2 linked regions of the Homo sapiens genome follow. The protein of the gene in region 2 purifies or fractionates together with the protein of the main gene of each other region. This does not show direct contact. Each region holds a gene or a part of one and is shown on either strand. Other genes may lie near its edges.

The links. Proteins that work in one complex are often made in the same cells at the same time.
Region 1: the proteins of ETF1 (region 2) and SYAP1 fractionate together in Homo sapiens (co-fractionation; one large-scale study listed by BioGRID). This does not show direct contact.

What each region holds. Positions count from the first base shown.
Region 1 is NC_000023.11:16,754,112-16,757,611, reverse strand, and holds part of SYAP1 (synapse-associated protein 1), read right to left. Parts: intron 2,668-3,500; coding exon 2,519-2,667; intron 950-2,518; coding exon 891-949; intron 451-890; coding exon 303-450; intron 1-302.
Region 2 is NC_000005.10:138,533,237-138,536,736, forward strand, and holds part of ETF1 (eukaryotic peptide chain release factor subunit 1), read right to left. Parts: intron 1-3,500. UniProt on the Homo sapiens protein: Component of the eRF1-eRF3-GTP ternary complex, a ternary complex that mediates translation termination in response to the termination codons. The eRF1-eRF3-GTP complex binds to a stop codon in the ribosomal A-site.

The DNA of each region.
Region 1 (3,500 bases), on a different chromosome or scaffold from region 2:
AGCTGGGACTACAGGCACCCACCACCAGGCCCGGCTAATTTTTTTTTGTATTTTTAGTAGAGACGGGGTTTCACCGTGTTAGCCAGGATGGTCTCGATCTCCTGACCTCGTGATCTGCCCGCCTCGGCCTCCCAAAGTGCTAGGATTACAAGCGTGAGCCATTGCCTCTGACAAGAATCAATTTTGATGCAAAATTTACAACACATTTTTGTGCACTGGCTTCAGAATAACAATTTTCTACAATTAGCTTTGGAATTAGGGAGACGAATAGTTTCTTTGCTTTGATTTGTTTTGTTTTTTACCTTCCAGTACGGCTGTCTCCTCTTGCTTTTTGTCAAGCACTAGTTGCTCCATTTCTTTCCTTAGATCTTCCTGATTTAGGTTACAGGCATCGAAGGCATCACTGACAAACTCAGAAACACCTGGGCTAGTAGAAATTTCTTCCTCATCCTGAAATGCAACAAATGAGCTCTTGAAATGGTTTGCTAAGCGACATTTGTGTTATTCTGGTTTGCTATTGTCTCACAATTTAATGCCGTGCTATTTTTATTTCTTTTCTCTGCGAGCTGTAAGACAATGAGCACTGCTCTCCAACCTTCTAACTTGCAGTTGCTTGGTAACTACATGAGTTACCACCTGAGGCTATTATTCTCCTTCACAGTTTGAATCACTCCAACCCTTCTCTCCAATCCCTGATGAACACATCTAGAATTACATATGCCAGTAAATCGTCCTCAAGTCTCAGCCCTAGTTCCTTGACTATTCAAGTACCAGATGCTGCTTCTTCCAAACCCATATTCATACATAGTTTTAAATGGTATCAGAAAGAGTTAACACAGTTACTTTATTTCCAGATATCAACTACTAGGTACAATGTAAAACTGGATTACCTCTTGAGTTTTAAGCTGAGATTTGATTACAACGGGTGGCGTTTTGGGCCGTACTGCCTCTAAGAAGTGAGAATAAGAGAGACAATAATTGCTTGGTTCAGTTCTGAATACATATTATAATCACAGTAAAATATCCACAAGTATTATGATACTAAATAATTTTCAGAAATGAATTTTTATGTTATGCTTTCAGCTTTTCTTAAGTTATAAGAAACAGCCATGGTGAAACCATCTCAACCTCTTACTTTGGGGATATTTTTATCTATCTATCTACCTATCCATTTATTTATTTTTAGACATGGGGTGTCACTATGTTGCCCAGGCTGGACTCGAACTTCTGGGCTCAAGTGATCCTCCTGCCTCAGCCTCCTGGGGATATTTTTAACATGTCATCATATTCAATACATATCCTTACATAAAATTTCCAGCAGGAAATAATTTTTAACTACAGTGTTAGCAAAATTCATTGAAGAATAGTTCTGTACTTTTTTAGAATAATGAGAATTAAGCTATTTATCAAGTTTGCCTGCTGATAAGAGTGCTAGAAAAAGGCAGTCTTTATGGAATACTGTCATAAATCCATTTTGTTAAACAAGGCAGTATTTGGCAAAATGGCATTTTCCAACAAAATTAACATAAATGCTAAAGAATAACAGACAATTGGGATGCATGTTAACACTGATATACAAAATGACAAATTTTCCTGTGTAGAGCAACTTCACTCCATTTCCCTGACACTAACAGCAGTGTCAGATCCTGTCCTAGTATTCTGTATAACCTGTACCTCAGGACATGCTGTTTTGCTTAATCATTTAAAATTCCGTGAATTAAATCACCCCGCTTCTTGTGGGATAAATGTCCAGTTGTAATGAGTACCTACTATACACAGCAGGTACTCACTAAGAATTTAAACTATGACACAAAATGTGTTTCTTATTTTAATTATTACAGATTTCAAACAGCTGCCCTTATTATAAAACACATTCCCACAACCAGGGGTAAGTTAGTGTCACAATGAGTCCAATGTTCATCAGTGCCTAGCTCAGAACTAGATAGATCCTTGTAACTTGGGAGTGGAATGGAGCTTTGTTCTGCTCTACAGACTACACACACTGGAGAAACATCAGGTTGAAACAAACAAAAAGGAGGCGGACTGAATCAGGGTAGAGGACAGAAGTATAAAGAATCACATGGTTAAGGGCCAAAAATGAGAGGGGGGGAAGATGACGGATGTTTGAGAGAGAAATAAAACGAAAAAAAAACTCGCCAGGCACAGTGGCTCATGCCTGTAAGTCCCAGCTACTTGGGAAGCTGAGGCAGGAGGATCGCTTGAGTCTAGGAGTTTGAGGACAGCCTGGGCAACATAGTGAGACCCGTGTCTAAAAAAAAAAACAAAAACGAAAACAAGGAATGAGAAAGGAGATAAGCAAAGTAAAGGAAAGCTTGGGGAAGACATGTGTGAGCTGGGTCAGAGAGAAGGCAGTAAGAGAAAAATGAAGATTTCCTCTGGGAAGAAAAGAATTTTTCCCTAAGGCAATGACATTTCTGGTACGTATAAGAGGTCAAGCTCATTTGAGTCTCTAAGAACAACTTTTTCTGTAGAGTGCTGTCTTCTACCCAGAATATACCTGCCAGCGGCAAATCTTGCTCTCTGCCATTGCTCTTCTCCTCCTTCCCTGCGGCCTGCTGTTGGGCAGCCAGGGCCGTGAGCTGGGCTGACTGCTTAATCAGGGAGACGCGGTAAAAGTAGTTCCTCCAGAACACTTCTTCCTTCACACTTTTAAAGAAAGGCAAATTAGAACAGTGGAAAAAGGCAAAATTGAAAATCAATAAAAAGCAGACAGACAAGAACACATTTGAGAACGCACACAGACAAGTGCACGCAGGGGTTATTTGTTGTAAAGGGGACTGGAGTAGATGATTTGCAAGAGCACTTTCAAAGCTGAGTGAGGTTCAGAGGGGGTTCATATTGGCTTTAACAATTTTTTTTTTTTGACACGGAGTCTTGCTCTGTTGCCCAGGTTGGAGTGCAGTGGTGTGATCTCAGCTGACTGCAACCTCCGCCTCCTGGGTTCCAGCAATTCTCTTGCCTCAGCCTCCCGAGTTGCTGGGATTATAGGTGCCCGCCACCATGCACAGCTAATTTTTGTATTTTTAGTAGAGACGGGGTTTCACAATGTTGGCCTGGCTGGTCTCAAACTCCTGACCTCATGATCTGCCCGCCTCGGCCTCCCAAAGTGCTGGGATTACAGGCGTGAGCCACCGCACCCAGCCCATATTCACTTTAGAATTGAAAGCTAACAACAGGATAAACCTAACAGCTATCTTCCCCGTAGCAGCAAAATACAAGTTACAGAATACCAATGAAACCTCAGCATTTCTTGGTATCTTAATGATACCAATACTGCTCTCGGTAGAAGAAAACATGGCATTGTTGTGAAACTAGCATAATCAACCTGGGAAACCAGAAGCAGAGCCAGGACTCCACCAATCACTTGCTGTTTCTCAAGAGGATTAAATGCCTTCCAGCAGTGAGAAGCAAGCATTGTGGCTGTTGTTCCTTATGAAAGAGAATGTTTGGCAGCTTGCTAATAACTAGTAACCAGTAAG
Region 2 (3,500 bases):
GTGTATATAAGCATCCTGAGGGCAAAAATCATTTTAGCACATAGTGGTGCTCAAACATTTGAAAAATGAATAAATGGCCAATTCCTACCATCATCTCTATATACTCTTTTTTAAGCAAACACCAGAGATTTATTCTAAACTACCAAATAAAATACCAATAAAAAAATCTGGCCGGGCACAGTGGCTCACGCCTGTAATCCCAGCACTTTGAGAGGCCGAGGCAGGCGGATCACGAGGTCAAGAGATCGAGACCATCCTGGCCAACATGGTGAAACCCTGTCTCTACTAAAAATACAAAACTTAGCTGGATGTGGTGGCACGCACCTGTAGTACCAGTTACTTGGGAGTCTGAGGCAGAAGAATCGCTTAAACCTGGGAGGCAGTGGTTGCGGTGAGCCAAGATCGCACCACTGCACTCCAGCCTGGAGACAGAGCAAGACTCCACCTCAAAAACAAAACAAAACAAAAACCAACAACAAATTGTCAGTCCTTGGAGAGGAACTAATGTGCCTTAAATTGACTAACTGTCCCCATCTTTCACTGCACCTAAAAGTTCAAACCATCATACTATATTAGGCGTTTACCTTAAGAAAACCAGCACTAAACAAAACCAACCCTTATGAAGTGTCATTTTAATTTTGTTGATCCTCACATTAATGCCACCCCACTCCCTCTGCTACTACCATCTATGAGGCATGTTAGGAGGTGGATGGGGCTGCCTTTTATAAAAGGTTTAGTTAGACTATCAAATTAGGAGGGATGATTCTGTTACCCTTCAAAGGGACTAGGAAAGTTACCTGAAATTAGTTTATGCAATTGACCTTAGAGTCAGATGCTATTACCAAATGGGAGAAATACCAAGACCGGAACTTACTGAGACATTACAGCAACCTCCACCCTAGGGTACAGAATAACTCAGATGTCCAAACATTTTCAGAATAAAGTTCACAAAGGTTCATTTTAGCTTTCTGTCCCCCAGAGAACAAAGATTTACTCAGTCATCTAAAACAAAAATGTACACATCTGGTAGAGTGTGTACACTTTTTCTACAATGATAGGCATTATTAGTCTTAAAAAGAAAAATTAAAAGATCTTCACAAACCCAGTGGAATATTCCACCAGGAAGCAGCTTTGAAGCTGGAAAATTTCTCTAGTGTTCTTACAACAGTGCAAAGCAAGAGACTGCAATCACAACCAGTGTTCGGGATTCATTACTTCACTACTTAGATCTTTCTAATATACGAATGAGCTCCTGGGGAGGGATTTTGCAACAAGTTATTTCTCTCTCCACTGATGCTCGTCAAGAATAAACATGTTCAGTATCCAAGTTCTTCCTAGGGTGGAAATAGCATGTCTGTTTTCTTTTAAATCTTTGCACCTGAGTCTCAGCACACCTGCTCCTCCTACTAAATTACAAATCTCCATGGACAAGAGTCTTCCTTTCAGAAGGGAATGGGAGACGTCTCTATTCAGCAAAAGAAATACTTGCCAAAGGGCAAGGTAGTGTTGTACAAATTAGCACCACAGGCTTTGAAATCAGAAAAGTGAGTACAGAATCTGGCACTGACCCTTACTAAAGGCTGTGATATTAGGCAGCTATTTACTCCCTGTATGTACTTTAATTTCTTCATCCATGAAATGGCAATAATAGCTTTCCTCACAGAGCTGTTATAAGGTTATAAGGGGGGGGGTCAAATGTATGCTTACTCATCCTCAGAAAACTAGTTTCTTTTTTTTTTTTTTTTTTGAGACAGAGTCTCCCTCTATAGCCCAGGCTGGTATTGGCTCACTGCAACTTCCGCCTCTTGGGTTCAAGCGATTCTCTTGCCTCAGCCTCCCGAGTAGCTGGGATTACAGGCATGTGCCAACACACCCAACTAATTTTTTTATTTTTAGTAGAGACAGGTTTTCACCATGTTGGCCAGGCTGGTCTTGAACTCCTTACCTCAGTGATCTACCTGCCTAGACCTCCCAAAGTACTGGGATTACAGGCATGAGCAACCATACCCAGCCAATGTTACCTTTTTTAAAGAAGAAGAAGAAAGCATTAGTTCCCCCATGAAGCAGATGGGGAAACTGAAGCCCATGGATGAATAATTGGCTTTTTTTTTTGAGACAGAGACTGGCTATGTTGCCCAGGCTGGAGTGCAGTGGCACGATCTCGGCTCACTGCAACCTCCTTTTAATAAAAGATGAATTTCGGCCAGGCGCGGTGGCTCACGCCTGTAATCCCAGCACTTTGGGAGGCCGAGGCGGGCGGATCACCTGAGGTCAGGAGTTCGAGACCAGCTTTGCCAACATGGCAAAACTCTGTCTCTACTAAAAAATGCAAAAATTAGCCGGCTGTGGTGGCGGGTGCCTGTAATCTCAGATACTTGGGAGGCTGAGGCAGGAGAATCGCTTGAACCTGGGAGGTGGAGGTTGCAGTGAGCTGAGATCACGCCACTGCACTCCAGCCTGGGCAAGAGAGCAAGACCGTCTCAAAAAAAAAAAAAGAAAAAATTAGCCAGGCTTGGTGGGACACACCTGTAATCCCAGCTACTCGGGAGGCTGAGCTGAACCTGGGAGGTGGAGGTTGCAGTAAGCTGAGATCGCACCACTGCACTCAAGCCTGGGCGGGAAAGCGAGACTCCGCCTCAAAAAAAAAAAAAAAAAAAAAAAAAAGACCTTAATCATCTGCTTATACTAAATCCCCTTCAACATGTACTGTGTTATTCTGTACTCACTAATATGGAGTTGAAAATGGTTTATATTATCATTCCATGGTTGTGTGGCAGATCATGTTTTCATTTTATTACATATTTCTTCCAAAATGTCTAGTGCCCAACTCACAGCAGATGTTTGGTGAAGCCCATTAGCTTACTGGTTAATAGTAAAAGTGCATTTCTGGCTTCATATTCATATACCCAGATGTGTATTTTGGAGGAAAATCTAGTTTATAAGGTCACAGACACAGCAGGAAAACAAAAAGAACCTTTTATTTTGACTATGATCATTCTTCTAAAGGAGATCTTAGAAGAACAAATGAAAATGTGAAAACAAGAGTACAAACTCAACATGCAGAGCTATCTGTATGATAAGAACCAGTTGCCAGGCACCTGAAAATGTCAAGTCCTCTGAACCTGAAAGGATTGTGAGAAGAGTAAAGAGAGTGGGCAAGGATGTGTGTCAAATGGCATAAGATAAAACCGTATCAGAGGGAGCTTCATCATACTCTCTGAGGACAGTACCCAGTGAGAAACCTCAGACTCTCAATTTCTAACCTGCCGGGGAAAAAAAGCCTGAACCTTCCTAATTCCTTCTCCCCCTCACTAAGATAGTAGGCTGCTGAAGAATTAAAAGACACCTACAGAATGTATCCTAGGAGAAGGTTCTATTCTGAGAGCCCTAGAGAATAGGCTGGACTGAGAAGTAATTTCTACTGTCCAGCCTCTTAGTTGAACAGATCCAGCAGTGGGAAGGCAAATTTCTCCTTCCTACTCTTCAAATAGGATCGAAGA